2 linked regions of the Homo sapiens genome follow. The protein of the gene in region 1 binds, or shares a complex with, the protein of each later gene. Each region holds a gene or a part of one and is shown on either strand. Other genes may lie near its edges.

Evidence for each region.
Region 2: KAT2B (region 1) and MYSM1 share a complex: the UniProt entries of both Homo sapiens proteins name them as parts of the large chromatin remodeling complex.

Annotation. Positions count from the first base shown.
Region 1 is NC_000003.12:20,043,398-20,047,148, reverse strand, and holds part of KAT2B (histone acetyltransferase KAT2B), read right to left. Parts: intron 1-3,751. UniProt on the Homo sapiens protein: Functions as a histone acetyltransferase (HAT) to promote transcriptional activation. Has significant histone acetyltransferase activity with core histones (H3 and H4), and also with nucleosome core particles.
Region 2 is NC_000001.11:58,658,457-58,662,207, forward strand, and holds part of MYSM1 (deubiquitinase MYSM1), read right to left. Parts: intron 3,056-3,751; coding exon 2,950-3,055; intron 2,772-2,949; coding exon 2,714-2,771; intron 1,700-2,713; coding exon 1,541-1,699; 3' UTR 1-1,540. UniProt on the Homo sapiens protein: Metalloprotease with deubiquitinase activity that plays important regulator roles in hematopoietic stem cell function, blood cell production and immune response.

The DNA of each region.
Region 1 (3,751 bases):
GCCCACTGCACTCCAGCCTGGGAAGCAGAGTAAGACCCTGCCTCAAAAAAGCCTCAGAAAAAAAAAAGGGGGGGGCAAAACAAAAACCATTGATGTTTTTTCTTTCTGTGCTGCAAAGGTATTTGTCTAAAACAGGCTTTCTCAACTTCTGTTAATTCTATTAATATTTTGGACCAGATAATCATTCGTTGGGGGGAGTTGTCCTGTGCATTGTGGGATGTATAGCAACATTACTGGCCTCCACTCACTAGTTGCCAGTTGCATTCCCTCCTCCCAACTGCAAAGATTGAAAATGTCTCCAGACATTGTCAAATGTCCCTTGGGAGGTTAAATAGCTCCTGGGTGAGAGCCACTGCTCTAAATGCTGACAAATGAAAAAGACAATTTGCTCTCTGGGGGAGTGACTGACAAATACAAAGGTGTTGGGGGCGCTCTCCAACTATAAGGCTTGTTCTAGTGCCCCACCCACCAGCCCTTAGCCAACAGAGGATGCTTTTTGTTTTGTGGTGGCACATCTACCTCTGCTCTCTGTATATTCTACAACCAGTGCTACTTCTAGATTATAAATCATTATTATTATTATTTTGAGACAAGGTCTAGTGCAGTGGCATGATCTCAGCTCACTGTAACTTCTGCCTCCCAGGCTCAAGCCATCCTCCCACCTCAACCTCCTGAGTAGCTAGGGACTACAGGCACGCACCATCATGCCCGGCTAATTTTCGTAATTTTTGTAGAGACAGGGTTTCACCATGTTGCCCAGGCTGGTCTCGAACTCGTGAGCTCAAGTGATCCGTCTGCCTTGGCCACCCAAACTGCTGGGATTACAGGCACAAGCCACCATGCCCTGGGCCTATTTTTTCAATTAAGACTAATTTTATAGTCCTGTACCCATGAAACTCCTTAAATGTGGCACCTTGCCGAGAACCCAAGCAACTGGGTTCTCCATAAATGCTTTGTGGCCACTGACTCTGATATACGAGTAAAGCACCAGGCAATTCCGTTTATTTAGCCAGCATTAACCTAGCATCTTTATGTTCTAGGAATTCTGGGGACACTTTTTTCTTTTAACTTTAAGGTTGAAGTCATGATCACCACTTTATACATGCAGTCATTGAGGCTCAGAGAAAAACTAAGTGACCTGTGCCTAAGATCACACAAGTGGCAGAGCTGGGGTGGATTCAGGACTGAGTCTGTTGCTCTTACTTGACTTTCAAGTTAACAGCGTCTCCCCTACCTTCTGAGGGCTTGCCATGGGCAAGACACCATGCTGGATGTCTAATACAGCCCATTTTAAATCCTCACTGTTATGCCATGAGGCGGGTAACATCATTCCTTTACAGACAGGGAAATAAAGGCTTAAATGAAATCCTTATCCAAGGTTGCAGAGCTGGATATCCCAAAATTTGAATTCAGATTAGCCTGAACTCTGAAGCCCATGTTCTTAGCCACTATACCCTATTGCCTCCTCTTACGTATTAATATAAATGGCCTGCTCCTTTAGGAAGGGTTAGTCAATGGGTTTTGTTTCTCTTTTGAAGTTAGTAGATGATATACTTTAATTCAAGAAGATTTGGATTTGGCCTACTCATACATTCACTTGGGGTTTCTTTTATAACATTAAAAACCCAATCCCAAGCAGGCATGGTGGTGCAGGCCTATAGTCCCAGCTACCCAAGAGGCTGAGGTGGGAGGATCACCTGAGTCAAGGAGTTCAAGGCTGCAGTGAGCTATGATCGTGCCAGTGTACCCCATCCTGGGCAACAGAGCAAGACCCTGTCTCTAAAATAAATAAATAAATAAATAAATAAATAAATAAATAAATAAATAAATAGGCCAGGTGCAGTGGCTCACACCTGTAATCCCAGCGCTTTGGGAGGTGGAGGCAGGCAGATTGCTTGAGCCCAGGAGTTGGAAACCAGCCTGGCAAACATGGCGAAACCCCATCTCTACCAAAAAAAATACAAAAATTAGCCAAGTATGGTGGTGCATGCCTGTGGTCTCAGCTACTCAGGAGGCTAAGGTGGAAGGATCACTTGAGCCTGGGAGGTACAGGTTGCAGTGAGCCAAGATCACGCCACTGTACTCCTGCCAGGGTGACAGAGCGAGACCCTGTCTCAAAAAAATAAATAAATAAATAACCCAATCCTATCAATATCTGTGGGACACCTAGAACTGTCCTATATGACAAATCTCTACTTAGTTGTCAAGAAGTGATTAAGTTAAAATTCCACAACTGCTAACATCACAGCTAATCATTTCTTCCATTTTCTCTTCTCTGGTTCATTCGCTTAGTCAATAACCGCATGGCTAAGAATCTATTCAAAGATTCTAAATGCACATCAAATAATCATACAAATCATAAAAATCATAATATAAGCACCAGGAAGAGTACAGATGAATTTGGATAATTTCTAATGGGAAGGCTGCTCAGGGGGGTAAAGGAAAGGCAAGGAATCTGAGTTCTATAGGAAGGGTTGGGAGTTAATTTTAAAATGTGGAAAGAAGAGCTTCCAGTCCCAGTGAACAGCATGTGCAAAGCCCCTCACCCCACCTCACCCCCGACTAGGTGAAAGGAAACCATGTGCCTGAACCCTCGATAAGGAGCCACAGATAGCAGTAGCCAGGCCATGCAGGGCCTTGTGGACCACAATAAAGAGAAATTAAAGGGCCTGAAGTGTGGGTATAACATGGTCAGATCTACTTTATTTTATTTATTTATTTATTTTTTTTTTTAGGGAGAATCTTGCTCTGTCACCCAGGCTGGAGTACAGCGGTGCAATCACAGCTCACTGCAACCTCTGCCACCACGCCTGGTTAATTTTTTATTTTTTGTAGAGACGAAGTCTCACTATATTGCCCAGGATGGCCTCAAATTCCTGGACTCAAGTGATCCTCCCGCCTCGGCCTCCCAAAGTGCTGGGATTACAGGTCTGAGCCACTGCGCCTGGCCTAGATCTACATTTTTAATGAACACAGAACCAAAATGACTCTGAAGCAACCTTTACCAGGACACAGTTCAAAGATCTGGATCCTGCGAAACAAGTTTGTTTGTTTCTTTTCTTTTTTCTTTTTTTTTTTTCTTTTTCTATTCTCTGGGGTGTGGCACGTCACCCTGGCTGACTTAGCTCCCTTCTTTTTTGGTTTCGTTTGTGAAGTTTAAAGGCCAGATTTATATCAGGCCTGGGACCTGTTTTTCTTTCAAAAGCCCCCCAGTGAACTACCTTATCTCTTTCTAGATCCCTCCTCATTCTCTAATCTCTCTAATCTAACTTGCCAAGGGGCCTGTGGCAAAGGTAGAGCAATCTGTCCTTTTGGGCTTGCTCATATTAAGTGCAGAAACAAGCTGAGAGAGAACCACAGATTTTGCTCTCTTACACTCCCTCGTACCCAATCAAGTCCAGTTAAATTTTTTTTTTTTTTAAAAAAAGCAAATCTGAGATAATGTCACTCTCCAGGTTAAGATTCCTGCACTCCTCAGTGCCCTCTTGGCCACGCACCCCAGCCGGTGGCCCTAGGCAACAAAGGTCTGGCTCAGTTGGCCCACCTCCAAGCTTCCACAACTGCTTTCAGTTTCTCCACTACAAGAAGCTTCACCCCACCCCACTCTGCCCTGCCAAGAGTTCTTAGCAGCCACTGACACTTCCTCCAGGAAGCCAATCCCACCCTACCAGTGCCCCAGTCTATGAACTGTCCTGCTCTGGGTCCGCAACTACTCCAAGAAAGTAGTTTTTCTGAACTTCTCTGTAATTTT
Region 2 (3,751 bases), on another chromosome or scaffold:
AGTTAGACTTCAGTTACACAAGAATTAAGGCTCAGGGAAAGTAAACTGTATCTCCCCAAATCACAAAGTTGAGACAAGAACCAGGTCACCTAAAGCTGACTCACTGCTTCTTCCAATACTCCTTATTCTTCATTGGCTATTGATTACAAACAAAGCAAAATATAGAATCAATCTGATTTAGATATAAGGAAACGTTAGTAAGAATGTTTGGTGAATAGCTATAAATCAATTCTCTGACTACTAAGAAATAAACTAAAATCTACTGAATTTCAATAAATGAGGCAGCATTGACTGCTTATTTTATTTTAAAATTGGCTTAAATGCAGATCATAATTCTGAGTTTTGGTGTCATTTGAAGATGACGTAAAGCTTAACAAATGTAAAACAAAATTCTAATGTTTAAAATTCTCTAGATCAAGGGTTGGAGAATAATAGCCAACAGCCTATGTTTTATGAGGCCTGTGAGTTAACAATGGTTTTTATCATTTTAAAGGGCTGTAAAACACACACACACACACACACACACACACACACACACAAAGAAGAATGTCTCATAGACATCATATGTGGCCTGAAAAGCCAAAATTATTTACAAACTGGCCCTTTACATTAAAAAAGTTCACTGACCTCCATTATAGATTCAGAAAGCATATGAAACTGGGCTGAATATGTAACATGTCCTGAAAGGCTTGTTTTAAAAATTAAATCTCTGATTTATTCCAGCTTTATTATCATTTGCCTCTTTCTCCTAGTAGTAGGCAGTAGAAAAAAAGTTTGAGTTATGATTACCTATGTTCCAGTTAAATGAGGTTTTATCACACCTACTAATGTAAGTGGACTCACAATTGAAGCTAATTATTTTATGTGTGTAAAATTGGTTAAAAATTTTCAGATAGCTGAGAAAATGGCATATCTTATGATACTACTGCTATACAATGAAATGGAAGATAGTATCTATGATTAGAAACTGGTAATTTAGTTCTCTCCTTTGGGTTTTTCCTGTTTTTAAGATTTTCTTGTCATGCCTCTCCTGGTCTCCTGTTAGATTTATTAATCAGTAGTTCTAAACCATATTAATTATCTCAGTGACCACCCATCCATATCTCATTTATAGCCATAAACAAATCTCAGCAGAATATATGGAAAGAATGGAAGTGCTTTTAAATGAAATAGGAGATACCACAATGGAACATAAATGACTAGTTCAGGGAAGAAATGACTTAGAGACATAGTCCAAATCCCAAGCTGAACACAACAGTAAAGCCGACCAGGTTGCTTAGTTTCACAGCCTACAGCATTGCTCAGTAAAGGACTAGAACACCGTGGTGGACCCTGGTTTGCAGAACACTCTGATAATCACTATATGAAAACAAATTTGTATCTCTTCCTTTTCACATGATTTATGTGGCAAAGTTTGGATTTTGTGAAATAGAGAAAAAATACCAAAGCTGTGCCAATGTTAACTACAATCACTTCAAGTTTATAACTTTGAAAGTAAGATCTACTGTGTCAAGATTAAAATGTCTTAACTTTAAAATAATCACATTAACAATTCCTTTGTACAGTTCTCTTCGGTTACTCCATTCTCTTGGTTGCTTTTATAATTGGAAAGGAACAAATTTTCTATTTCAGTCAAGAATTCTTCAGCCATAAAGCAATTGGTCACTTTGCTCAGAGTCTTCCTCATACACTCCAAAAGCTAGTTGAAAAGAAAAGTTTTATATTTAAATACAGAAAAAGTATGAGGGTTTGCATTACTATCACTATTTCGTCCCTTTCCAGACCTCACATTTCCTAATGCTCAAATGAGAAACACTCTCCTTAAAAATGGTTGAAGATTAACTTGTGTTTAATAGTCACAGAGCTGGAATGTAGGAAATTGCTGCTGAGGAACACTCAGCTTAGTACTTTTATGATTTTACATAAGGAGACAAACCTGAGATTGTTTATGTGATGCTTTCTACTTCGGACGTATTTGCGACTTTTCTCCATTTGTAGTTACACTTACAAAGCAAAATAATCCTGAGTATACACACACACAAAAATCTAGGTACATAAAAACATAGGATTCTGCATTTCAAAATGAGGATGCTAGCTGGAGTCTATTTCCTTGGAAATGTGCACATACTTTTTCAACAACACACAAAAAACTGGATATAACAGAAAGGAGTAAAACATATTAAAAAGAAACTTAATGTTTAAATTTTCTATCCCCAATTGCTATTTAAAAAGACAAATGTTGCAGATCTACTAGCCTTCAATCATTACAGAAGCAAAACCTAGACGTGAACTGACAGAATTCAAAACTCTTATTTCCTATTAGAAAGTTAAATAAAATGACTATTTAAATTTAATTGTTAGATTTATACCATCATTCTTAAAAATGACCAATTGTTAAGGCTAAAATGGAAACATGGCACTTTCAAATTTAATAAAATAAGAAAAATGTTCTCCATTGTGTATAATAATAATCTGCTAAAATCAGCCAACACTGACAAATTTATTCTAAAATAGAATTTTTTCTATGTGCAAGCTTGGGCAACAAAAAACGTTACTAATTATCTCCTAGAAATTAATTTTCCAAAGGAAAAAGTAATAAAAGAAATATACAGAAAATTATCCACAAAGTATTAGGCATCATGGGAAAACACATTGAGATGAATAGCTTCAGAATCTGTGAACAATGGAACCAATTAAAATGAAGACAGCTTACTTTCTGCAAACAAGTCAGGTCAGAATCCCGGCGAAAGATTTTATCCATGGGGACGCTGCTGTAGGAAGAAATATGAAAACAAACTGGTGAAACGAATACTATAAACTAATCAGTTTCATAATAAACTATCACGGATGCCATACATCACAATTTTATATTTAACTTGGGTTTTCTCTGAAACATAATTTAATGAGCAACACTGCAGATGTGCAACCATCTCAAACCACAGTACATACCTATGGGAGAGCCTGTATTTTTCTATTATCCATCTTGTCTTTTCAAATACTAATCCCCACTGAGGTTCTTCTAACATCTGCTGTACTTCAAATTTGTAAGGTAAGCCTAGAAAAGCATAAAGAAGCACATTGTCATCAACTATTTCTTAACTCTCCAATCTCCTTTTAATTATACTTAAAATTCCCTTCGGTGTTTTTACAGCCATAGCTTTGCAGATCAGCTGAACAGCACTTTAAACATAGTGGGCATTCATTAAATATTTATTGCCCGATTGTACTTGGTCCACTAAGCATATTAATGCCAAGCTATTAATAATAATAATGAGTAAAAGTGCCATTTACATGACAATTCTACGCATGGCACTATGATGGGATGATCACGTAATTTATCACCTAAACCAAGAGACTTTTTGAATGAAAGAAGGTACTATTAATAATTATGCCTGAACCGCAGGTTTAAAGTGGGATTATCCTAGACAAACTAAGACATATTGCCATCCTAGTGATAATTAAAAATATATATATATACAGGTTATTAAGCTTACAACAATGCTGTAAGTTATTGTTTTTTTTTTAACAGGTGAGAAAACTGAAGCTGAGATACATTAAAAATCATATTTAGGCTAGCAAAGTGGCAGGACACAGATGTTAAAACCCAGCAGGTTTGCCTCACTTCTGAGCCCAAACTCATTCCACCTCCCTAGAAGAGCTAATCTAAGACTAGACAAGAGGATAGGATGAACTCTGGGGAGGCAGCAACTGCTTTGAGTCAAAGTTGTTATACTAAACTCTGGAGGAAAGA